Regions from separate parts of the Homo sapiens genome. Here region 1 is linked to region 2. The links come from fine-mapping of genetic effects on gene expression. A gene starts in region 2. The other region holds a variant in brackets. All regions are shown on one strand. Distances are between the middles of the regions.

The links.
Region 1: its variant is fine-mapped to the expression of LINC01331 in prefrontal cortex (GTEx, PIP above 0.99). The same link has a PIP of 0.9 or more in cerebral cortex.

What each region holds. Positions count from the first base shown.
Region 1 is chr5:74,388,324-74,400,836 of GRCh38, forward strand. The region is part of intron 2 of LINC01331 (long intergenic non-protein coding RNA 1331); the gene reads right to left. Among named protein-coding and RNA genes, the nearest start is that of LINC01333, 73 kb to the left of the region's middle. The variant A/G (reference allele first, on the strand shown) is at 6,201.
Region 2 is chr5:74,528,845-74,541,357 of GRCh38, forward strand. LINC01331 (long intergenic non-protein coding RNA 1331) reads right to left here and starts at 7,929. Exons shown (of 4, transcript NR_197436.1): 1 at 7,826-7,929; 2 at 1,566-1,717.

The DNA of each region.
Region 1 (12,513 bases), 140 kb before region 2:
ATCAGGCACAATCTATTAAGTAGGTGCTATTATTGTCTCTATCTTACAGATGGAGAAACTGAGGCACAGAGAGGCTAACACAGCCAAAGTTACAAAACTAACTAGCAAATAAAATAGCTTAGATTCAAAACCAGGAACTCTGTCTCCAGAGTTTATGCTCCTTGATACTCATGTCACTCTTGTTTTATTTATTCTGTGTATCACTTAGGAATGCTTTGGTGGCAAGTAACAGAAAACTCAACTGAGAGTGACTCTTAAAAATAGGAATTCATGTGGTCAGATGTCATAGCTCACGCCTGTTATCCCAGCACTTTGGGAGGCCGAGATGGGCAGATCACCTGAGGTCAGGAGTTGGGACCAGCCTGACCAACATGGTGAAACCCAGTCTTTACTAAAAATAGAAAAATTAGCCAGGCATAGTGGTGCATGCCTGTAATCCCAGCTACTTGAGAGGCTGAGGCAGGAGAATTGCTTGAACCCAGAAAGTGGAGGTTGCAGTGAGCTGAGATTGCACCACTGCACTCCAGCCTGGATGACAGAGGGAGACTCCATCTCAAAAAAAAAAAAAAAAAAAAAAAGCAGGAATTCATTTTTCTCGCTAAGCAGCAAGTATGGAGAAAAGCAACTGCTGGGGGTTCAGTTGCTCTCTATGCCCTCAGGGACCCAGGTACTCTCAATTCCACTGATCAATCATCTTAGAATCCTCACGCCTACAATGTCATGGTCCCTGCTGTTCTAGATGGTACCTCCCCATTCCAGGGAGGTAGAAGGTGTAGTCCCCCCGCCTTCTTGGGGGACTTTGTCTTTTTCCATTTGGGAAACTACACTCACCTCACTGGACTGTCCTTTACATCTCACTAGCCAAAACAGGATCACACACTCATTCTTCACCCAACGAAAGGCCAAGCAAAGTGAGATGATGGTTACTGGTTTTAACTAATCATGCTTTATTTTGGGGGCTTGGAAAGGAAGCTGAAACTAATGAGCCTCTACCCAGCTCCTGAATAAATTAGACTTTTTTTAGTGAGAAAGGAGAGTGGGCAGGAAGGGGAATGAGTGTTGGATGACAATAGACAGTGTCTGCTGCACTCCCCTACTTTGGATATTTGGTTGCTCTTTATTGTTCAATACCTGATTCCCTTGAACTGTGGGAAGGCACTGTGCTAACAAGTGGGAATAAAGACAAAAACCATAATCTCTATATGGTTATAAATTGCTGAAAGGCTTCATTTGAGAGAACCAATTGCATACCCAATTTTAAACAAAGAGGTGAAAGAACTTAAGTGACATATGGCTGAGTTGGCAAATGGCTGTCAACAGAATCCAAGAGGCCTTACCTTGGCTTTGAGTACACAATAGGTGAGACAAAACAAGCCCCAAGGTACTCAGACTGTAAAATGACAGAAAGGACAAGCCTTGTGTATGTGCTTAAAAATAGAGTGTACATTCAGTATTCTCATAGCATTAAGCATACAGAGTTGGTTTATACCCACAAGTAATCACAGTATAATCTAAATTTCTCCAGGCCTTACCTGCTGCTGGGTATAGATAGAATCATGCAAAAGTAATGACTCAAACTTCCCTGGCACATGTCTGTGCCAGCCCCTGCTTTGTGTTTCTGGGAGTCCCCATGAAGTCCACAAAAGTACACACAAACTGTCCCAAGCCCACTGGGGTTGCCCCTGCTCTGGCTTGACCCAGAGCTACATAATGGCTTGGATCAGAGCTGGAGGAGCAACTCCCTCTCCTTCACGTACCCACTGTCACAAGGGTCTGAAAACAGTGCAGCTAGCACCTCCTCTCTCCCTAGGACCCAAACATGTGGCCACAGAGCTGGGCTGGGCACAGATTCAAGTGACAGTGACTGTGATCAACTCAGTATCTCTTCTCTTCCTCAAATATCACAGCTTGCCGTTGCATCAAATCATCTTGTCTGGCTCTTTTTCCCTTAGGACAACTGACTAATCACCTCTGTCCTAGGAACTTATTCTTAGGAAGTAGCCAGACACATGGCCAAAAATATGCATTAAAGAGTCAATTACAGAGCTCTTAATAATGGTTAAGAAAAAAAAATAACCTTAATTTTATCAGTAGGAGACTGGTTAAATGAATTACAGCATATTCATTTTGAAAAATAATAAGCATTCATTTAAAATGATGAGGTACATCTACATTTACTGACGTGGAAAGATATGATATATTGTTGAACTGGGAAGAAAGTATGATCTCATTTTTATAAAAATATAAGTAAACACATGCTCACATGAATGTATGTGCATTAATGTGTGCACACACACAAAGAAAAATAGAAGTTATCTTTGGACAACAAGATAAGGGCATTTTTGCCGTTTTCTTTATATCTTTCTGAAAAATAGGAATGTTTTTACAAGAAGTATGAATTGCTTTCATAATCATAAAAAGATAAAGCCATATCTATTTTGAAATATAATTATTTTAATAAAATAGGCTTTAGTAATTGATCCATTCTTTAGGGTGAAATTGTGGAGGGGTATAAAATCTCCATTTAGCAATATCTTTTAATAGAAGGAAGGTCTAATCATTTACTGGAAATTCCTGGGTAATGTGCAGGAAAACCAACCTTGACAGAAAGATGATTGGTACTGGACAGCTCCTGAAAAATACAGTGAGGCTGGGGAGAAGGGCAGTGCCCCAACAGCGCTATTCCTGGAAGCCCAAGAAATCACAATTTCTGGGAAAAAAAAAAAAAAAAAGTATGCAGAGCAAAGCAAACACATGGGTTGCTGTATTTTGTGGTTGCCTCTTTTTCGCCTTGGCTCATTTTTTCTATTGGTTATTTTTTTCTAACTGATTAGTAAAAGCTCAAAGCTTAACAACACCTGGCATTTACATCACATTTTTTCCCTCTATTTGTTTGCCTTTCAAGATTTTTGTGAAATTTTATGACACATAGAAGTTCTCATTGTTTGTGTGATAAAGTATAACAGTCATCTTTTTTTTTTAATGATTCTTGGCTTTGGTATCTTGCTTGGAAACGCTTTTTCTACCCCCCAAAACACCAAAATTATTCACTCATATTTTATTTAACCTATACATTTTTATCTTTTATAATTGTTAAAAGGAAAATTACAGATAAATTAAATTTAACAGAGTTTAACTGAGCAAAGAACGGTTTGCAAATAGGCACCTCCCCCACCACCAGAATAGACTCAGAGACACTCCAGCGCTGCATGTGATCAAAGAGAATTTACAGACAGAAAAAAAAAGTGATGCTAGAAACAGCCTGATTGGTTACAGCTCTGTGTTTGCCTTATTTGAACCTGGTTTGAACTATCAGCTGCCTTTGGTTGGCTAAAGCTTGGCGATTTGTATGAGTAGGTTGCAGTCTGTTTACACATCCAGCTGGGTTTCAGTTCACTATATATGGAGGAAACTTTAGACCAAAAGTCTCATATGTAAGGAGACAGCTTTGGGCTAAACTTAATTTAACATAATTATTAAATTGATCGAATTTGTGTGTGTGTGTGTCATGTATGAGGTAGTGATATAAATGGTTTGTACCAATTGGTTGATCATTCTTCCCAACACCATTTATAGATTTATCCAGTCTTTTTTTTACTGATTAGAAATAATATTTTTTTTTTTTTTTTTTTTTGAGACGGAGTCTCGCTCTTTCAACCCAGGCGGGGCTGCAGCGGCGCTATCACTGCTCACTGCAAGCTCCGCCTCCCGGGTTCACGCCATTCTCCTGCCTCAGGCTCCTGAGTAGCTGGGATTACAGGCGCCCGCCACCGCGCCCAGCTAGTTTTTTGTATTTTTAGTAGAGACGGGGTTTCACCGTGTTAGCCAAGATGGTCTCGATCTCCTGACCTCGTGATCCACCCGCCTCGGCCTTCCAAAGTGCTGGGATTACAGGCGTAAGCCACCGCGCCCGGCCTTATTGTATACCAAAACAACACAAATACACAAGGGTACATACATACATAGCCTTGGGTATGTTCTGGACTTAAATTGTTGAGTTCCATTAGCCCACCTGCCTATTCCTGAGCTGATACTATATACATTACAATCATTATGAATTTAAGATGGTTTTAATTTTCTGATAAGGCAAAAAGACACCCTCATTATTATTCTTTTCAAAAATATATTAGCTATTCTTAAATGATCATTCTTCTGAATAATTTAGAATTATGTGGTCAAATTCCAAATAAAATGCCATTAAGATTTTTATTGGGATGGCATTAAATTATAGATTAATCTATAGAAAAAAACTTAATATTTTCAATAGGAAGCCTTCTCTTTAGTCTCACATTAGGATTTTGTAAGTTTCTTCCTATTCTTCCTTGATGTTTCTTGGTAGGTTTGTGAAAAGTTGATTTTCTCTGGCCCTTCTCACCCCTTGTCTGGTCACATGCAGTGTGTTGGAATCTCTTTATCAGATTTACAGTTGTAGGACAGGTTTGTATATCTATAGCTCTCAGGCAAAGTTTCACTTCCCACAGACTTTCCTTCAGTTTTCTTGAGGTGGTACCTTCCCCTGACCTCCACTATCTGGTTTCTGGTTCCAGAGAAACAATTTAATCATTCTCATTTCCAGCATGCTCTGCTTCCTGGGAGTTTATTTATTTCCTGCCACAATGCTTACATCATAAAGACTACAACTCATTGTACTGGTTTGTTTATTTTTTTTTTTTCTGCATAACAAATGACCACAGACTTAGCAACTTAAAACAACACACATTTATTATCTCACAGTTTCTGCGGGGCAGGAGTCTGAAGATGGCCTAGCTTGGTCCTCTGCTCGGAGTCTCACAAGGGTGCTATCAAGATGTTGGCTGGCTGCATTTCTTTCTGGGTCTTGAGATCCTCTTCAAAGCTCAGGGGGTTGCTGGCAGAATTCAGTTTCTTGCAGCTGTAGAATGCAGGTCCCTGCTTTCTTGCTGGCTGTCAGCCAGGGCTGCTCTCGGCATCTACAGGCCCCCTCTGTTCCTTGCATGTGGCCCTCTCCCAGGTCCACTCATGATATGTCAGCCTACTTCTTCAAGGCCAGCAAAAGAATCTCTTGTTAGGGCCCACTAGGACAATTCTTAGATAATGTAACATAATCACAGGAGTGACATCCATCACCTTCACGGTACTCAACTGGCTAGAAGCCAGTCACAATTTCCACTCATTCTCAAGGGGAAGGGATTATTCAAGGGTGTATCCACCCCACTCAGGCCTTGGACCATTGTCAGCACACCACTACTTCCTGATCACCTTTTTTCTGAGATTTGGGGTCTTGGCCTAAATATGACAGGGTGGCAGCCTGAGTGGGGACAAGAGGCAGAGGGCAGGTGGCTGTGGGAGAAACGTATAGAGAGGCACTCTGCTCTCCTCACAGAACTGGACAGTTTTCTGTTTGATATAGGCACCAGGTCTTCAAATGGGGGAGGCAAAGTAGAGGTATGACATATGAGGAAAGCTACACCGGTTATTCTCGGTTCTCTCCATCTGGCTTAGAATTATTGTCAGTTTCTTCAAAATGCTGGAATTTGGTTGTTAGTCATTTTTCAGTGTTGTACATTTTATCTTTTTTAAAAATCTCTTTGTATATATGTTAGTGAGAAGTTAGGGAAAATGGCTAGCTTCCTGATGCTTTGAACCAGAGTTTCAACCAAGCCAGTTTCTGGCAGGCTTCTGCTTCTGTCTTCTTGAGATGGCACCATGCCTTGGTTTCTAGTTCTTTCGAAGCAAGTGCAAAATTGAGAACAACACATTTTATAAGAACTTTCTTGGTTCTGTTGTGCTACCTCAGGGAAACCAAAGAGATAGCTAATCTATACCTTGCTCAGGAAGCTGTGGGTATCAGAAATGTATCTGCAGTACTGGTAGTCATTTCATCCTCCCAATAACCTAGTGAAGTACATATTATTATCTCACTTGATGGAAGTGGAAACAGAGGCTTTGACTAAACAAATAACTTTCCCGTTTTCGCACAACTCAAATCACAGGTTGCCTAACTCCATAGTTCTTTCTATCACATTATACTTTCAGGGTGGGGGAATGTCTTCTGAAATATTGAGAGGCATTTAATAATAATCAACAAGTTTCTTCCAATCTTCATTCAGCCTACAACCTCACAACCCTAATGTATATCTTTCTGAAATAGGGAGTTTTTTCACAGTAAAAATGGACAGCATTCTTTTTCCTGTCATTACTCCATACCGCCTTTGCCCCAC[A/G]AATTTTACAACCTGAAAAACAAAGCAAGCAAAGTCAATTATTGAGAGATCTGGTAAGCACACAGAGCGGCTCAAACTCAAGGTTTTTATTCAGCCGCACTCAAATACCTTGTCTCATGTATCCCAGAAGCAAGCCACACTAAGCAGGGGTATAAGCCAGTCAGAGGGAAACTCCCTTCTCTCTTTTGGGAAGCTCTGACAAAAGTCTCCAGGGGGCACTGCAACCAGCTGGGGGAAGTCTTAGTCTGTTTGGGCTACTGCAACAAAGTGCCATAGACTGGGTGGCTTAGAAACAACAAACATCTATTTCTCAGTTATGGAGGCTGGAAAGTCCGAGATCAAGGCTTGGGCAGATTTAGTGTCTGGTGAGGACCTGTTTGCTGGCTCATACATGACCTCTTCCAGCTGTGTCCTAATATGATGGAAGGAACAAAGACGCTCCCTTGGGCCTACTTCATAAGGCCAGGCCTTGGTGACCTAATCACCTCCCACAAGGCCCCACCTCCTCACAGGGGGTTAGGATTTCAACATGTGAATTTTGAAAGGACACAAACGTTCAGACCATAGCAGGGGAGGACACAGGTGCAACAGTCAGAGTTCCTGGGTGCTAGAGTCAGAGATCCTGAGGCTGGGTGCCTGCCAGCTGCCTCCAGGGAAAGGTCATGTGATGGGTGGTGGGACTCTAACAGACACACACCAGGAGTAAATTCCTAAACAGCAGGTGATACAGAAACTGAGGGAGATGTCTTGCAAAACGAGACCACACAGCATGCCAGCAGGTGGAGGTATAGACCCCCATGTCTCCCAGTCCCCATGAAAATATACAGCTGCTGCTGACCACAAACCCATCCCCCCAGCTGCCCGAGCTGCATACCTGCCTGCTAACTAGGTGCAAGTAACTACTGAAACCAACCTCAGCACATTCCTAAGTGTTTATAGGTCATAAAAGGTCTATTTCTCATGCTTAGTACCCTCATTAGGCCCAAGTTTTAGGCCTACCTTGGGTCCATTCCCGCAGCAATCTTGGGCAAGTCATAAGATCTTGCCCATTATCAGTTTCCTGTAATACAGTAGTTCTCAAAATGTGGTCCCCCAGCCGGCAACATCAGTACCTTATGAGAACTTCTTAGAAGTGCAAATTCTTGGACTCCACCCCAGACCTACTGAATCAGAAACTCTGGGTATGGAACAGAAGGATCTGTTTTGACAAGTCCTCCAGGTCATTCCGATGCATGTTAATGTGGGAACCACCGCTCCCTCCAATACCTCATAGAATTGTGAGAATTAAATAAGATAATACATTCTGTTCTGCTACCGTTTCCGTGTATGAATTAGCCCATCAGAGATTGATCACAGAGAAATGACATCAGTATAATGTGAAAATTGCACTGGTTTCCATAATTTCGTAGGTAATTTTTACTAACCAAGAAGTCCTGAGATAGCAGGAGTAGAACCATAACGTTCAATGGGAAGGAAAAGGCTTGAGGTTTGGCTGCTGTACCAGCAGCAGAAATCTTTTTGCTGTATTCCAGGAAATGTTTAAATGAGTACCTGCCACCAGGGCTACCTCCTCAGGTAGGTGCACCTCCAGCCTTGTGAGCTCTCAGCTTGTGGAAGGTTGTCTGGCTTCCTGTGTGCACCTTAACAACAGCCCTGTGACTCCAAGCTACATTTCCATCGCCCTGTCCCAGCCCCTGCCAGTGTCAGTCTAATTAAAATGTTACCAGCTTTTCATCTTTATTGCTTTTGTGCATTTTAATACCCGTGTGGCAGCCTCTAGCCCCTCAGCTGCTGCCAAGGTGGTCCAAATGATCTCCCCAGGTAGTAGTGATTGCTTTCCTTAATCACAGTTGCATGGGATTTGAATGGTCTGCCTTGGCCCAACTTTTCCCATAAGTCCTATTATTTTTTATGCCAAGTTTTGCAGACAGCAACATTTTCTAGAAAGTGTAATTTTAGGTTACAGCAGAAATGCCTGTATATGTAAATTACCTGGCACATAGTAAGGGCTCAGTCATTATTATTATTAGTTCATGTCTACCATACCTTGTCCTTGAAATGCTGACAAAAAAAAAAAAAAATGAGCCAAGAAAACCCTACAGTGACAATTCCAGTACAAGAGCAAAGGAACACAACTTCATATAGCAGGTTTTGATAATGAAAGGCAGAAGTTCTTATTCTCTTTTGCCAATATTTTTAATGACAGTCATTTGAAGCAATTCCTCCTGTGTTTTTTGTTTTTTCCCAGTTTGAGTAGCTTTTTTTTTTGACATGGGGATATTTTATCTACTCCTATGTACTTAAATCTTTAATGACATTCCATCTCTTTCTTTTTGACTTTAGAAAATCAGACACTTATTCTTAGAAATAGCCAGGTGGAGAGTAATTATCTTGGCCATAATTCTCTGATGTTTACAGAATATGGCACTCAGACTTGAAATCTCTGATGGCCTTTGCTGGAAGGGATTTCAGCCTCCTCGTCCGACATGAATGGGAATTGAGGTCTGGCTCAAGGTCAGACAGCAGAATAGTCTGGCCATGAAAGCCAGCCAGGTGTCCTGGCTTCTAATTCAGTATTCCAGCTCTTAATGTTTACTCTCTAGTTATGTTCTGCTTCATGAGGTCACTTCTAAATTGTTTCCTCAAACCTGGGGTCACAGACCAGTGGTCTGTAGGTCAAATTCAGCCCACAGACATGTTTTATTTGCCCGTGTCGTATATCTTAACAATTGAGAAATTTCACATTTAAAAAAATGTCTTGCTTCACTTGAAAATTCAGAACATCTGGCACCTCTGAGCCACTATTCCCACACGGCAACAATCAGCCCAGCTGAAGAGCACCTTCCCCTTTCAACCGGGATGAGCTCACTCAAAACTGCCGGGGTCCCCCCAACTCCCCATTGCTTGACGTGCATGCACACACCTTTCTGTATTAGTTTGCTAGGGCTGCTGTAGCCAAGCACCACAGATTCTGTGGCTTCAACAGCTGAAATTTATTTCCTCACAATTCTGGCGGCTAGAAGTCCAAGATCAAGGTGTCGCCAGGGTTGATTTCATTCTGAGGCCTCTCTCCTTGGCTTATAGATGGCCCTCTTCTCCCCGTGTCTTCATATGGTCTTCCCTCTGTGCGTGCCTGCATCCAAATTCCCTCTTCTTATAAGGATATCAGTTATACAGACTGGGGCCTACCCAAAGAATCTCCATTAACATAATTACCTCTTTCAAGACCCTATCTCCAAATGCAGTCATATTCTGAGGTACTAGGTTTAGGACTTTAACATGTGAATTTGGAGGAGACACACTCAGCCCATGACACAGTCATTCCTCCTTTAGATTACCTGCTTGATCCCAAAGGCATTTGAATCTGCAACTGTGACAAACAGCAAACCTTGGTTTGTTCTTGAACAACTCAAACCTTCATGTCTTCTTTCATCAATTAAACAGCTCCTCTATGAAGTACCTTAATAATGAAACCCGAAGTACACTTAGAAGAGACATAAAATTTTAAAGACAGGAAGAACCTCAGAGACTATCTCCTCCAGGGGTTTTCAAACCATTTTAAGTCATGGAAACTTCTAACAAAAGTTAACAAGGAATTGATAAGTAAAATAGCTAAACTCCACTCCTGTTTGCCAAAATAGCTACTAAGGGAGCTCCAGAAGACACTGGGCCTCCCTATATAAAAATCATTTGAAAACCACTGATCTAATCAAATTATTTGGTTTATATCTGAGGAACCTAAGGGCCTTCCACACAGCCATGGCCACACAGAGCTGGGAGCAGAACCAAATCCTCTGTCTCCTGCTTCCTATGGCTCCGGGTCTCTATATGGTTCCAACCAGGATCTGCACAAGGTTGATTGAATAATACTTTTAGGTTGGTGTAAAAGTAATTGTAGTTTTTGACACTACTTTTAACAGCTAAAAGCACAATTACTTTTGCATCAACCAATATCATCAGGATAGGAAAATCCTGACTTTTTGTTGGTGAGAGGAACAAGCTGGAGCTGAAGTCTAGGAGTCAGGAGGCCCAGGTTCTAACTGTGTGTTGTCCATTCTAGCTGTATAACACTGAGGACAAAGGATTTTACCCCTCTGTTCCTCTTCATATTCAGCACACAAAGGGTTTGACTCTATGAATTCTAATATATCTTCCAATATTAAAATACTAGGATCCTGGAATGTTACCCTTATAGTAATTATGCTCTCCTTTACTTATGCTCTATTGATGTAAAAGGACCATGATAACTTTTGCCCCAAGAGGCATGTATACCAGCAATGGGCAGGCTCAGCCTCCCCACACACAGAGATCCCCCGGGCCCTGCCTGCTGACAACCAAGGCCACCTAAACATCCATACTCCGGCTTGTTATCATAGAAAAGAAAAAAGAGAAAAATTAAAAAGACCTTCCCCAGAAGAGGTAAAGCCATGTGGCCCACTCTTTGGTCAGTAATATAAACCAAACATTTTGCACCACAGGGAAAGTGGAAGCAAAAGAGTAGGAAGAATTGCTATGCTGTTTGGGAACTGTAATTACATGACTCCAAAGTGGAAATGGCAGGAATTTGTTCTGCAACCAACATTCTAGTAACAACAAGCATATTACTTCATGAGGTTGCCTGCCATGGAGCATACTAATTTTCACAAGTAATTAGCATCTCATTTTGAGCCAAAATCTATGACCCTCAAACATCCAAACTTTGGTTACCACCAACACCCATGTCCTCTTCCTCTTCATGGACACACAGCTGGACTACCTTTTCCAGGCTCTCTTGCAGTTGGCTGGAGCCAGAGAACTGCGTCCTCACCAGTGGAATGTAGGCCAGGTGTTACGCGTCTCACCAGGCTTGGTCCATAATATCCTCCCACATGTGATCCTTGCTCTTTCCTCATATGCCAGTTGAATGCAAGGGACTTTGGAGGCAGGGAGGAGGGCAAGGCCCAAGATGAGGAAACCTAGATCCCTGAATGACTGTGTGGAACAGAGACACACCCCCACCCCCATCCTCCCTGTGATGTGCACAAGAAATAAATGTTTATTTTGTTTAGTGATTGAAATTTGAGAGGCATCAGTTTCAGCAACTAGCATTATTAACTTTAACGCGTGTATCTTTTGAAGTAAGACAAGCCTACTACTTCTTGTCTCACTTACTAGACTTGATATATTTTAAGATAGCTCTCATCTAAAGGTGATAAGAAGACAATCTCTTGACTCTCTTCTCCCTTAGTACTTCTCCTCTTTTGTCCTTCCCCAATTCAAGAAATTCCCCAATGTAAAATCCTGAGCCCATTGTATCAGGGAAGGAGTTTGCATGGGAGGAACACTGAGAGTCTCTTTCTCCCTAACATTTATTAAAAACCTAAGCCCTTGGTATTAATAGATCAGAGAGAATTCCCAACAAAATCAGAATATTTGAGACAACTGTCATCAGTGACAGAAGTGAGACTGAGGGGACTAGAGTTTCTCCGCCCCCATGGTGAAAAAATATTCCATAGTCCCAACAGTCTTTCTCAACCAAACTGCCACAGTAGAATTAAGCCTTAATGCCCATTGTATCAAATGAATTAACTTCTATAATAGAGTGATACTTATTTATCATCCTTGGGAGAATTTTTAAAAAATATTTCTGAGTTACATGGTTTAGATGAGAAAGGCTGGCTGGAGGAAAGGAGAAAGGAAAAAAGAAAGTGAAAGCATCAAAGAATCCTGGACAGCAAAGGGAAAGGTGCCAGGGAGCCAGCAGAATGCCAAGGCCATGCGGCGAAGGAACTTGGCCTTGTTGAGCTGGTAGAGCCCAGGGAGGTAGCAAGACCCAGGGGAGGGACCTTCTTCTGACCAAGGAGGTGCATCTTAGGCACTTTCTTCTGGCCCAGGAGGCTTTGAATCAGTGACAGCACCATTCTGGAAGGAGCAAGGCTGGCTGAAAGGAGATCCCTCCAAGCTGTAACCTGCAGGACCAACTATTAAGAATTCTCTGGGTCAGGGAACATCTTCATGAATACCTTTGAATGAAACTCAGGACTTCCTAAAATTTCCATGTCTTTTTCTTTCACCTGTCAGGCAGGGTATTCAGAAGGCCTAAAATGATTAGGCCAGATACTGTTCAGTCAATGTTTTCCAACTGTAACATAATTAAGAATATGAGCTGTTTTCTCTCCATGTTGACAAATAACTCCAAGATACCAGCACAGTCCTTCTTCCAGTGCAAACTCAGTCTTTGGACCTCCTGGAAGACTTCCCCAGACCACCACTGTACTGACAGGCTGTGTTTGTTCCTTTATTTGACATTTGGCCAGGGGGATGTCCTTCCTTA
Region 2 (12,513 bases):
GTAATCCCAGCTACTTAGGAGGCTGAAGCAGGAGGATAGCTTGAACCCAAGAGGTGGAGGTTGCAGTGAGCTGAGATTGTACCGTTGCACTCCAGCCTGGGCAACAAGAGCAAAACTCCATCTCAGGAAAAAAAAAAAAAAGACACTTTCTAGTCCACCCATCTCTCTAGCCTCTCAACGACCTCCTCCTACCACTATGCATGTGCTGTGCTCCACCCATGCTGAACTTCTTGCTGTCTCCCAAAATGAAATAGTTTCACCATTTAAAAACAAAATGAAATTTACTGAAATGATTTGAGGGTTGAAGTTTGGGAAAAGGCAGGAACAGTGGACACTTGGGAGGAAAGTATAGCAAGAATGTTCTAATAGGAACAGTCCAGCAGGCCTGCCACCTTGCAATGAATTTCCTCCCAGGCTTCGGTCCAGCCTTGGATCAGGAACAAAGTTTCAGCAAAAAGCATCTGAGCGGTACACCGCAGCTTCGTACCATGGTTGTACCGAGGTCAGCTAAAGGAGAATGTGATTCATTCAACTCCCTAGTAGAAGGAAGCGACCCCTACATTACCTCCTGCCAATAATACAACTATGGAGGACAGGTACAGGAAGAGGTAATTCTCCAAAGGAAGTCGGTGCAATATAAGGAAGGGGGTAAACTGGGAAGGGTTGGAGGTGGGAGGATGAAGAGAGGTTGGTTCGTGGGTACAAGCATATAGTTATACAGAAGGAAAAAATTCTAATGTTCCATAGCAGAGTAACATAACTATAGTTAGCAACAATGTATTGTATTATCTTAAAATAGCTATACGAGAGGTCTTGAAATGTCCCCAACACATAGGTATGATAAATGCTCAAGGTGATAGAAAGCCCAGATTTGATCATTACACCCTCTATGCATTTAACAAAATATCACATGTATCCCATAAATATGTGCAAATATTGTATATTAATAATAAAAATTTAAAAAATAAAATCATCATGTTAACATAAAAAAGGAAGAGGGTGCAGATGCTGGTCATCTGAAAAGTAATAATCATGTATGTCATGACCCTATTTTTCTCCATACTTGAAATACTGCAACTCCCCTTACTCTTACCTGCCACCACCACCCCATTTTGCCTGATGCATGGTTATTTTTCCACGAAAGGTTAGCTCTGACATTACCTCCTCTAGGAAGTCTTCTCTGACCTTCATAGACTGTGTTAGGGAACCCCTCACCTGCATATCTTTATCCTGTCTCTTACCATATGAATTAAAATTGTTTCTTTGTCCATTTCCACAATTATGTGTTAATATGGCCCCTTGTAACAAGGGGTCCTAACCACCAAGTGTAACGCTGGGAAAAAAATGTAGATGAACTTCAAATAACTCACTTAAAAATAGTGACCTGCCAAAAATGATTTTTTGGACTGCTTTACCAAACCATTTTTAATAATGGAAATTGATGTTTCTCTGGAAACCCCTTATATATTCTTGCATAATTCATGTGTCTTTATGCTGTTTCATGATTTGCATACTGCATTGCTAAGGGGATTCTAAACCCAAATTCCCCTGTATCCCAGTCTCACCTCTAGTTCCTCACTGATGTAATTCAGCACCATGTCATAACTGTTCTCCCAGAGCTGAAGCAAGTAAGTTCACTGAAATCTTGGTTGGTATTCTTAATCTGTAGGAATTTTCTATTGTTTGTCTTTTTATTGGCAAAGGATCTTAGTTTAATCTGTGGAAGATATAAACATATTAAAATATTTCTACAGCCATGTTGTGTGCTTTTGAGAATGACTCACTCATTTTTAAACCATGTTCCTTCCTAAATCACTCTGGCTTTTCTCCAGATCGATTTCTTTAGAGAATATTGCAAATTTATTACAAAAGGGGTTGCTAAGTGAATCATTAATGAGCTTAATAAAGTCATTTAAGAGAGAATTAATCTATGTTGAGTGGGCTTTGTCAGACACAGAGCCATTTTTAGGAGAATAATGCTTGATAGATGGGAAACAAAGGACAATATCAACATAGCAGTAGCGGTAATGGTAGATGTCTCAAAGATGGCATCATAGGAACTGCTGCTATTTTCATCCCCAGAGCCTGCCTCTGCAGATCAAAATGACATTGTAAGCTCATGCTTTGAAGTCGCTACCTGCACTCCAAACACTTAGCAATTATAAATAAAATATTTTAAGAACGAATTTAAAAGAAAGTTTTAAAAAAAGTAAACCACATGCCCATACATACATAAAGAAAAATAAATATCTATGTGCTAGAAACAGACCAGAAATATAACACAGTAGTTACTAAAGCTGTGAGCTTGTGGGCTCTGGAGACACACACAGATAGGCAAGATAACTCCTCTGCAGTATTGGGAGTAAAAGGGCCCTAGGTGGTTGGTGCCTGGATCCAGGCTTATTGCTTGAACCTAAATGCGGTGAGGAACTTCTGCCCTAAAAAAAGGTGCAGCTGTTACCTAAGGTTAGGGCTTATATAAATGTGCATCTAGAAAAGTAGGAACAAGCAGGTATGACCAAGACTTGGGCCAACCTGCCTCCTGATTCAGTGACTAAATCTGTAATATCTGAATATCATCGTAAGATAAAAGTTCAGGGCCACCAACATAAAACCAAGTTGTGGACTGGGGCCCTGTGACCAAGCAGGGAGGGAAAGGTATAGCAAGAAGAGAGAAAGTGTGTGTGATGCCACTTGAAATGTACATCACACAAGTTAAAATTCTAAAACAATTAAAGAAAACTAACATTAAGAAAGGGAGCCAAGAAAATCAATATTTGGGATACATTCATTCCAGAAGAAATGGAAATACAGGCATACCTCGTTTTATTACATTGCTCTTTGCAGACACTTTGTTTTTCACAAATTGAAGGTTTGTGGCAATCCTGCTTCAAGCAAGTCTATCATGCCAGTTTTCCAAAAGCATGTGCTAACTTTATGTCTCTGTCATAGTTTGAAAATTCTCACAATATTTCGAACTTTTCATTGTTATTAATCTGTTATGATGATCTGTGATCAGCAATCTTTGATATTACTATTGTAATTATTTTCAAGTGCCACAAGTCACACACACATACGACAATGAATTTAGTTGGTAAATGTTGTATACGTTCTGACTGCTCCACCAACCGGCCATTTTCCCATCTCTCTCCTCCTCAGGCCTCCCTACTCCTTGACACAGAACAATATTGAAATTAGGCCAATTAATAACTCTATAAAGGCCTCTAAGTGTTCAAGTAAAAGGAAAAGTCCCGCAACTCTCATGTTAAATCAAAAGCCATAAATGATTAAGCTTAGTGAGGAAGGCATGTTGAAAGTTGAAACAGACTGAAAGCTAGGCCAAATGATTAGTCAAATTGTGAATACAAAGGAAAAGTTATTGAAGGAAATTAGAAGTGCTACTCCAGTAAACACACAAATGATAAGAAAGCAAAACAGCCTTATTGCTAATATAGAAAAAGTTTGAGTGTCTGGATAGAAAATCATACCAGCCACAATATTCACTTAAGCCATTCTATGAAGGCTGAGAAGTGAGGAACTGCACAAGAAAACTTTGAAACCAACAGAGGTTGGTTCATGAGGTTTAAGAAAAGAAGCCATCTCCGTAATATAAAAGTGTAAGGTGACGCAGCAAGTGCTGATATAAAAGCTGCAGCAAGTTACCCAGAAGATCTAGCTAAGATCATTGATGAAGGTGGCTACACTGAACAACAGATTTTCAGTGGAGATGAAACAGCCTTCTATTGGAAGAAGATGCTATCTAGGACTTTCCTAGCTGGAGAGGAGAAGTCAATGCCTGGCTTCAAAGCTTCAGAGGACAAGCTGACTTCCTTGTTAGGCACTAACGCAGATGGTGTCTTTAAGTTGAAACCAATGCTCATCTGCCATTTGAAAATCCTAGACCCCTTATGAATTATGATGAATGTACTCTGCCTGTGCTCTGTAAGTGAAACAACAAAGCCTGGGAAACAGCACATCTGTTTATAGTATGGTTTACTGAATATTTTAAGCCCACAGTTGAGACCTGCTTCTCAGAAAAAAAAAAAAAAAGATTTCTTTCAAAATATTAGGGCTTATTGTCAGTGTACTTAGTCATCTAAGAGCTCCGATCAAGATGAACAAGGATATTAATGTTTTCATGCCTGCTAACACAATATCTATTCTGCAACCCATGAATTAAGAAGTAATTTCAACTTTCAAGTCTTACCATTTAAGAAACACATTTTATGAAGCTATAGCTGTCATAGATAGTGATTCCTCTCATAGATGTGAGCAAAGTAAATTGAAAATCTTCTAAAAAAGATTCACTATTCCAGATACCAGTAAGAACATTTGTGATTCATGGGAGGAGGTCAAAATATCAACATTAACAAGATATTGGAATAAGTTGATTCCAACCCTCATGGATGACTTTGAGGGGTTCAGGACTTCAGTGGAGGAAGTAACTGCAGATGTGGTGGAAATAGCAAAACAACTAGAATTAGAAGTGGAGCCTGAAGATGTGACTGAATTGCTACAATCTCATGATCAAACATGAAAGAATGAGGAGTTGCTTCTTCTTACAGATGATCAAATAAGTAGTTTCTTGAGATGGAATCTGCTAGACCTGGTGAAGATGCTGTGAACATTGTTGAAATGACAGCAAAGGATTTAGAGTATTACATAAACTTAGTTGATAAAGCAGTGGGAAAGTTAGAGAATTGACTCCAAGTTTGCAAGAAATTCTACTGTGAGTAAAATGCTATCAAATAGCATCATATGCTACAGAATAATCTTCTGTGAAAGAGTCAATTGATGCTGCAAATTTCATTGTTGTCTTACTTTAAGAAATGGCCACAGACCTCCCAATCTTCAGCAACCAACACCCTAATCAGTCGGCCACCATCAACATCAAAGCAAGACCCTCCACCAGCAAAAAGATTACAACTTGCTGAAGGCTCAGATGATTGTTAGCATTTTTAGCAATTAAGTATTTTTTCATTAAGAGACGTACATTTTTAGACATAACGCTGTTGCATACTTAGACTATAGAATAGTATAAACATGACTTCTATATGCACTGGGAAACCAAAAAATTTGTGCGACTCACTTTATTGTGACATTTGCTTTATTGCATTGTACTGAAAATGAACCCACAGTGTCTCTGAGATATGCCTGTAATAGAATCTGAAAGTGAATTTACTATAGGGATTGTGGCCTGGGCAACGTGGCAAAACCCCATCTCTACTAAAAATACAAAAAAATTAGCCAGGTGTGGTGACATGCACCTGTAGTCCCAGCTACTCAACAGGGTGAGGTGGGAGAATCACTTGAGCCAGGGAAGTTGAGGCTGCAGTGAGCCAAGATTGCATCACTGCACACTGACCTGGGCAACTGGAATAAGACCCTGTCTCAGAAAAATAAAAATAAAATAAAATAGGGATTGTTAGAACCATCAAGGAGAAAAAGAAAGGAGGAATATTCATAAAAATGAATAGTAAATTGTGAACGAAAATAACTAAAAAATGAAACAAGAGCAGGTTGATATTAAAAGGGACAAGTTGGAAATTCTGGTAATAAAAACCATAGTATTTGAGTAAAAAACTCAATAGACAGGATTAACTCTGTCTTGGGTATAACAAGACGGAGAATTAATAAATTAGAAGGTTATATAGAGGAGCTTACCCAGAATGAGCAATAAAGAGTTAAGGAAGGGGAAAAAACATGAAATAGCAATTCAGAGACATGGAAGACATATTGAGAAGATCTAACATATGTCTAATAGGAGTTCAAGAATAAAATAGGGGAAAATATCTGTGAATCAATAGTCAAAGAGATACTATAAACTTTTCAGATGGAAGAAAATGATATATGTTCTCAGAAGAAAAGGTTACATACACCAAGTGCCAAAAAGAATACATAGTAACGAACCTATAACAGGAAACATTTTTCAGTGAAACTACTGAACATTGAAGGCAGAGAGATAATCTTGAAAGCTTCCAAAGCAAAAAGACAGCTGCCCTGCAAGGAAAAGACAATTAGACTAACTCTCATCTACAATGGGTGCCAGAAAACAGCAGAATAATCTTCTCACAGCCTTGAGGAAAACCAATTATCAACCAAGGCTTCTATACCCAGGTAAACTATCATTCACAGCAGAGTAAAATAAATCATTTTCAAGAAAAAAGACTGAGTGTGTTATCACTCACATGCTAAGCCCCAAAATTGAGAAATCATTGATAAATATGATTAACTATTTACTTTAAGTAACTAATGTGTGTTTTTAAAAGGTAAATCTAAAAACCTAGATAGCAATACTATGGGAGTGGCATTCAATGAATAGAAAATGCATGGTAAGTTCCTTAACCCTTTCAGGAATATAGAGATAGTTAATCATTCTACATTTTGTTAGAAATTTTACAATAAATATGCATGAAAATTTAGAGGTAATCTCAGAAAGTAAAAACTATAAAATAGAAGGCAGAGTCTTATAATGAACAGTCTTGAAAAATCTGTAGAACAGGACTTGAGTTGTGGAGATAACGGTTCAGTAAAGGCTGCCCATGGCCTGAAAAAATAAAATTTCCCAATATTTTTTCTTTGCTACTAAAGAAGAACTTAAGCACTAAAGAATCAAATGCCATGAAATTGAATTCAGATACAAATTTAAGTTTTTGCTTTTTAGTAACTAAAGGATTTAAAAGAGAAATTTAACATGGCCTCAACTCCTAAGTCGCTATTGATTATCAGATACAACATTTATGTAAAAAACAACTTTTTTCCTACTTGACCATTGATGAGAAGGTGCCACCTGATTTCCAAAACGTTAACATTTTAAATCGACAAAATGTATTAACTTACTTGACTTTGAGCCAAGTAAAATTGTTCTCAAGTGCCTTGGACTCTTCCAAGGAAGCTTATTAAAATGCAGATCCTGGGGGCACTCTAAGAGACTCGGATTCTGAAGATTGGAAAAGGCTAGAGATTTGCATTTTTAACAGATAGTTCTGACACAGATGATGGGAAGACTGCAAATTTCTGAAATGTTGACTGAGTAAAATCAAAATAGTAATAAAATTAGCCAGGCAGCCCTGAGGGAATCTTAACAGCAAACATAAAAATTGAGCCACCCATTCTGAAAGACATCCAGGTTGGAACTAGGAAAATTCTAATTAATGAGTTAAATACTTGTTGAATCCTAATCTAGAAATCAAAAGACCTGGTTTCTGTTCCAGTTCTGCTGGTAATTAGCTTTGAGACTGTGGGAGAAGTAGGGGGATTATTTTTCCTCTCTGGGCCCAAGTTTCCTCATCTATAAAATAAGGTTAAATTATTCTCTGCCAGCTTTAATGTTCTTTGGCTCTGTGAGTTCACATAATGGGATTGTGGGCCAGTAATTAATCTAATCTTTATAGATTCTTCGAAAGAAGCCCCCCGCCTTATTTCCCCAGGAGATGGCAGTGGGAAAGTACAGCATAGAGAAACCACATTAATGCTGCAGAGAGGCAGGTTCTGAGTGAGACACCAAATTGACCCTCAATATCTGACCTCCACCTTCCCCGTTACAAAACTTATTCTTTAAAAGCTTACCAAACGAATACAGCAAAGGATGGGTAAAGAAAATGCAGTCAATCTCTTCTAAATGCAAATTACCTTGGCAATTATGCAAGCAATTTAAAATAACAACGAGTTGCAAGCAAGAACAACAAAGATTTGATTCCCAAGCTAGAAACTTTCAATTCAGCCGAAAGCTACAAATCCTGGGAAATGCAGGCCCCCAGAACTGCATGGATGGTGGTAACAGAGACACGTAACAAAACAAACTTCAGAGAAAAACTAGACTTACCTAGTTCTTCTAAGAAAAATAGAGTTTTTCTTTAAAAGCGGTCTTTTGTGAGGCTTGGATTCCTCCAGCAATGAATGTAGAGCCAAGCTGTGAACCCAAAGACTGGAGCCCTACACACCTCCCCAGCTTTTACTGTAGAAATCTTTATTTGTTCTGGAATCTCTTTTATCAACACTTCACTTACTCCTACAGTGTGAACTCCAAACAGTCCTGTTTAAGAAACTATCTGCAAATACCAGAATGGCTAATCCTAAAAATAAGGTGTTAATTGGTCTCTTGGTGATTCCAACCCCAAACATAATAAACTAGTATTTCTTTTTAAATGTGGGGGTTTTGCCCCACTGCTAGTCTGAAGTACTGGGTCTTTCTTTTTCTGCTGCTTTTCAGCTTATGTTTTAGGTAAAAATAAAGAAAAAAGAAACTAGTAAGAAATACAGTGAATCTTTGTCTCTCTTCATCTGACAGTAATTATAGGATGTTAAACCCAAAGTAAAGCAGGTCATACTGTATCTTCAGGAGGAGCCAAATTAGGAGGCAAGCTTGTCATTCCTGAAGTCTTCCTTATGGACATAGGAATCCAACAATTTAAAAAAAAATTTTTTTAGAGACAGAATCTATGTCACCTAGGCTGGACTCAAACTCCTGGGCTCAAGGGATACTCCCTCAGCCTCCCAAGTAGCTAGGACAACAGTCAAGCAGCACCACACTGGACTTCTCAGGAATCCACCTTTTTTTTTTTTTTTTTTTTTTTTTGAGACAGAGTTTCACTCTTGTCACCCAGGCTGGAGTGCAGTGGCGTGATCTCAGCTCACTGCAACCTCCGCCTCCCTGGTTCAAGCAATTCCCCTGCCCCAGCCTCCCGAGTAGCTGGGATTACAGGCACAGGCCACCATGTCCAGCTAAATTTTTTGTATTTTTAGTAGAGACGGGGTTTCACCATGTTGGCCAGACTGGTCTCGAACTCCTGACCTCAGTCAATCTGCCCACCTCTGCCTCCCAAAGTGCTGGGAATACAGGCGTGAGCCACCGTGCCCAGCCAGGAATCCACTACTAAATAATAAACACCTCTTAGTGCCTCTGGCCCAAATGCCCAGTTAACTGTGGCCCAGTTTCCCTGGGTGTTGGCTGAGTGTTTAGCTGGGGCAGAGAGCCAATCAACAAATTAGGGGCATTGATCCTTTTTATTATCTTTGTTTTTATCTCTCACTTCTGACCTGCAACAACATCCCATTGTCAGCTCAGATTCTGGAGCGTTTAAACCCTTCCCCTGCCACTGAGAAAGCGTTTTTCTAATGAGGAAGTAGTGTGACTGCAGAACGGTGGTACAGTAGGAGGGATCTCCCCCGGTACCCATCACGCAGGGACAGACTGGCTCTGGGTTCTACTCCTAACTTCTCTCATCATTGGTACTACTCTCCACGACCATCATTTCAGAGAAATTTCTCTGCTTTGGTATATACAGGAATTTGACCTGGGATTTGTGTGAAATATTTACATTGTTTTTCATTTGGGTAGATGGCCTCAGAACAATGCAGTTCCCAATTTCCTTGTGCTGTTCTCCTTTGCTTGCAAGCAGGACAGGAGCAGAGAATTAGAGGAAAGGATTTCACTGAGTGGCGTACAGTCTTTCCTCCAAACTTTCCATGGCAAACACAGTGTTGATCTATACTTGTGAGAACCTCCTGGGGCTGCATGTACTTCCTAATGGGCCTGGCTGCCAAGTTGCCTCTTGTGGGACTGACCTGGAGCCTCTAGAGCAAGGGTCAGGAGACAGGATGCAGGGTTTATGTCACTGTCCGAACTGGGAGCACAGGCTGAGCTGCCCTACAGTGGGAACCGAAGGCTCAGACATTACTTCACATCTCAGCAGAATGATGCAATGATAGCTCTGCTGCAAGTTCTGCTAAACAGCTCAATGTTTGGTTCTCCATCCTCAGTAATATTCTTGTCACTGAGCCAATGGCCTCATCAAAGGAACTAAGCAAGGATCCTCTAACAGCCTTTTTTCAGTTATTGGTAAGAACAGTAATAATTGTGGGTTCCCTATAACAAGCACTGTGCAAAAGCCATAAAAGGGAAAAATGGCCCTGTTTTTCCAGCATCACATCTTCCTAAAGATTAAGTATTTCTATATCAACCATTCAACCATTCATTGAGCAGTCTTCATGAGCATGGCAATATGCTGGGTGATGGGTTTGCTGGTGAATGAGTTCAACTCATCCCTGCCCTCAAGGAACTTACAAGACACCATAGAGGACAGATGGATGCAGAAAAACTAGATTGTTCTAAGTGCCATTGGGGAGACCTAGAGCCACATGGAAGGCAAGTCCATTTCTTTTTTTTTTTTTTTTTTTGAGACAGAGTCTCACTCTGTCACCCATGCTGGAGTGCAGTGGTGCGTTCTCAGCTCACTGCAGCCTCTGCCTCCTGGGTTCAAGCAATTCTCATGGCTTAGCCTCCCGAGTAGCTGGGATTACAGGTGCATGCCACCATACCCTGCTAATTTTTGTATTTTTAGTAGAGACAGGGTTTTCCCACGTTGGCTAGGCTGGTCTTGAACTCCTGACCTCAAGCAATCTGCCCGCCTAGGTCTCCCAAAGTGCTGGAATTACTGGTGTGAGCCACCACACCCAGCCAAAGGCAAGTCCATTTCTAGCTGAGGAGGGGCAATCAGGAGTTGGGCTGTGTTGAGTTATCCTTGTGCATATCTTGTACTCAGAGCTTATTTATCTCTATTAGAACCCAGCAAGCCTGGTGGTGTAAACGTCATCTCTTCTCTATATCAGAATGTAATGGAATAAGTTTTTTATCTAAAACCTCACTTGGTGTAGCCTTTATATTATTTCCACTGTGATAGATGAAAGAAAAAAAGAGCAGTTTAGAATGATATCTAATAATAAACCTTACTGGTCATTCAAGATCTAGTGATATTCATTTGAAATCTGAAAAGGATTTCTGCCAGAGAATCAAGGCCTGAGGTTGTCTTCATTTCTTTACCATAACTCCCCTGCCTCCTTCTATCAGCAACGTACTCTCAGCACACCCCCAATTTCCTCTTCCCACTGCCTAAAACCGCATCTCCCAAAGACGTAACCTGGCAACCCTACCCAAGAGGCCCTTCCCACCACTCACCTGTTCTTTCTCTACAAGAGCAGCCTATCTGTTTCATTCATGAAATATATCACCATTTGTAATGTTTCTTTCTTTTTTTTCTTTTTTTTTTTTTTTTTTGAGATAGAGTCTTGCTCTATTGCCCAGGTTGGAGTGCAATGCCACGGTCTCGGCTCACTGCAACCTCTGCCTCCCAGGTTCAAGCGATTCTCCTGAGTAGCTGAGTAGCTGGAATTACAGGTGCCCGCCACAACGCCCAGCTAATTTTTATATTTTTAGCAGAGACAGGGTTTCACCGTGTTGGCCAGGCTGGTCTTGAAGTCCTGACCTCAGGTAATCCTCCCACCTTGGCCTTCCAAAGTACTGGGATTACAGGCATGAGCCACAGTGCCTGGCTGTAATGTTTATTTTCTTATCGGCAATCTTCCAGAACACACTGTAAGCTCTTTAAGGACAGAAGATAGCAGATGTGAAAAAATTGTTGCATGAATAAATTAGCAAATAAATAAGTAGTAGCACTATTACTTTAGGAAAGTCCTCATAGCGCTCTAGACCATGGTCGCCACACCCGTCAAATAAAAGAACTCACAAGGATCCAGGCTGAATATTCTATGATTCTAGGACTTGGTAAAATCAGCACTAGTGCTTCACCAGAAAATGCGAAGCAACCCTGACTTCAAGGCAGTTTTCCTAGTAGAAAGACATAATAGGTAATGGATGGAAGGATGTTCGGCATTCTTATCCCACTTTATAAAAAATGAAGACACCTAAATACATTTTGTGTATAAAAAGAGGCTCCTCCACACATGCAAGTAGATTGATTCAACCTGTGTCAGCAGCCAGGGGCCCTGGAGTCAGCCCCTCCACTGGAGGACACTAGCAAGAAGATATTTGCAAACTACTTTTTCTGATGGAGTCAAGAGAACCTCTGGTCTAACCCATGAGCTTGCATTAGTGCCTCAGCTCAGCCTAACTCCAGCACCATCTTATAGATCCTGAAAGTGGGTGGTCTGGAGCTCCGCTTCTAAACTTCCTCAGATTCAAGCAAATTCCACATTCATTTGAAAGACAGAGGCCAGAGGGATTGGCTGGATCAGGGAGGTTGGTAAATACAGTGCCTTTTTTTTTTTTCTTTTATCAACAGGAAATACAAGCTCCAGTTCTGGATGAAAGGGAAAAAAAAATCATTGAAAGTAATTTATATCTGAAACTGTTTAGTAGTGTCATCCTAATTTACAACAGAACCAATTCCAAATTAAAAAAAAAAAAGTCTTTTTCTGTTTCCTGTTAGCAAAGAACATGGGGTTATTTAAAAAAAAAAAAATCCACTGGATTTTCCCAAGTGTTGATAAGGTCTGGAATCCTGCAGATCTCATGAGAAGAATTCAAAACTCCTAATTAAAAGTTTTGTTCTCACAGTCAAATCTTGAAACTGTGCCGTTTGGCTTCACTTCTCTATGGTTAATTCATTTTGATCTTCTTCCAAAAGATAAATTGACAATGTGGGATGAACCATTATCAGAAGCTTATTAATTATTATTATTTCTGGTTTTGAAAGGAGAAGAATTTTGCTGTAA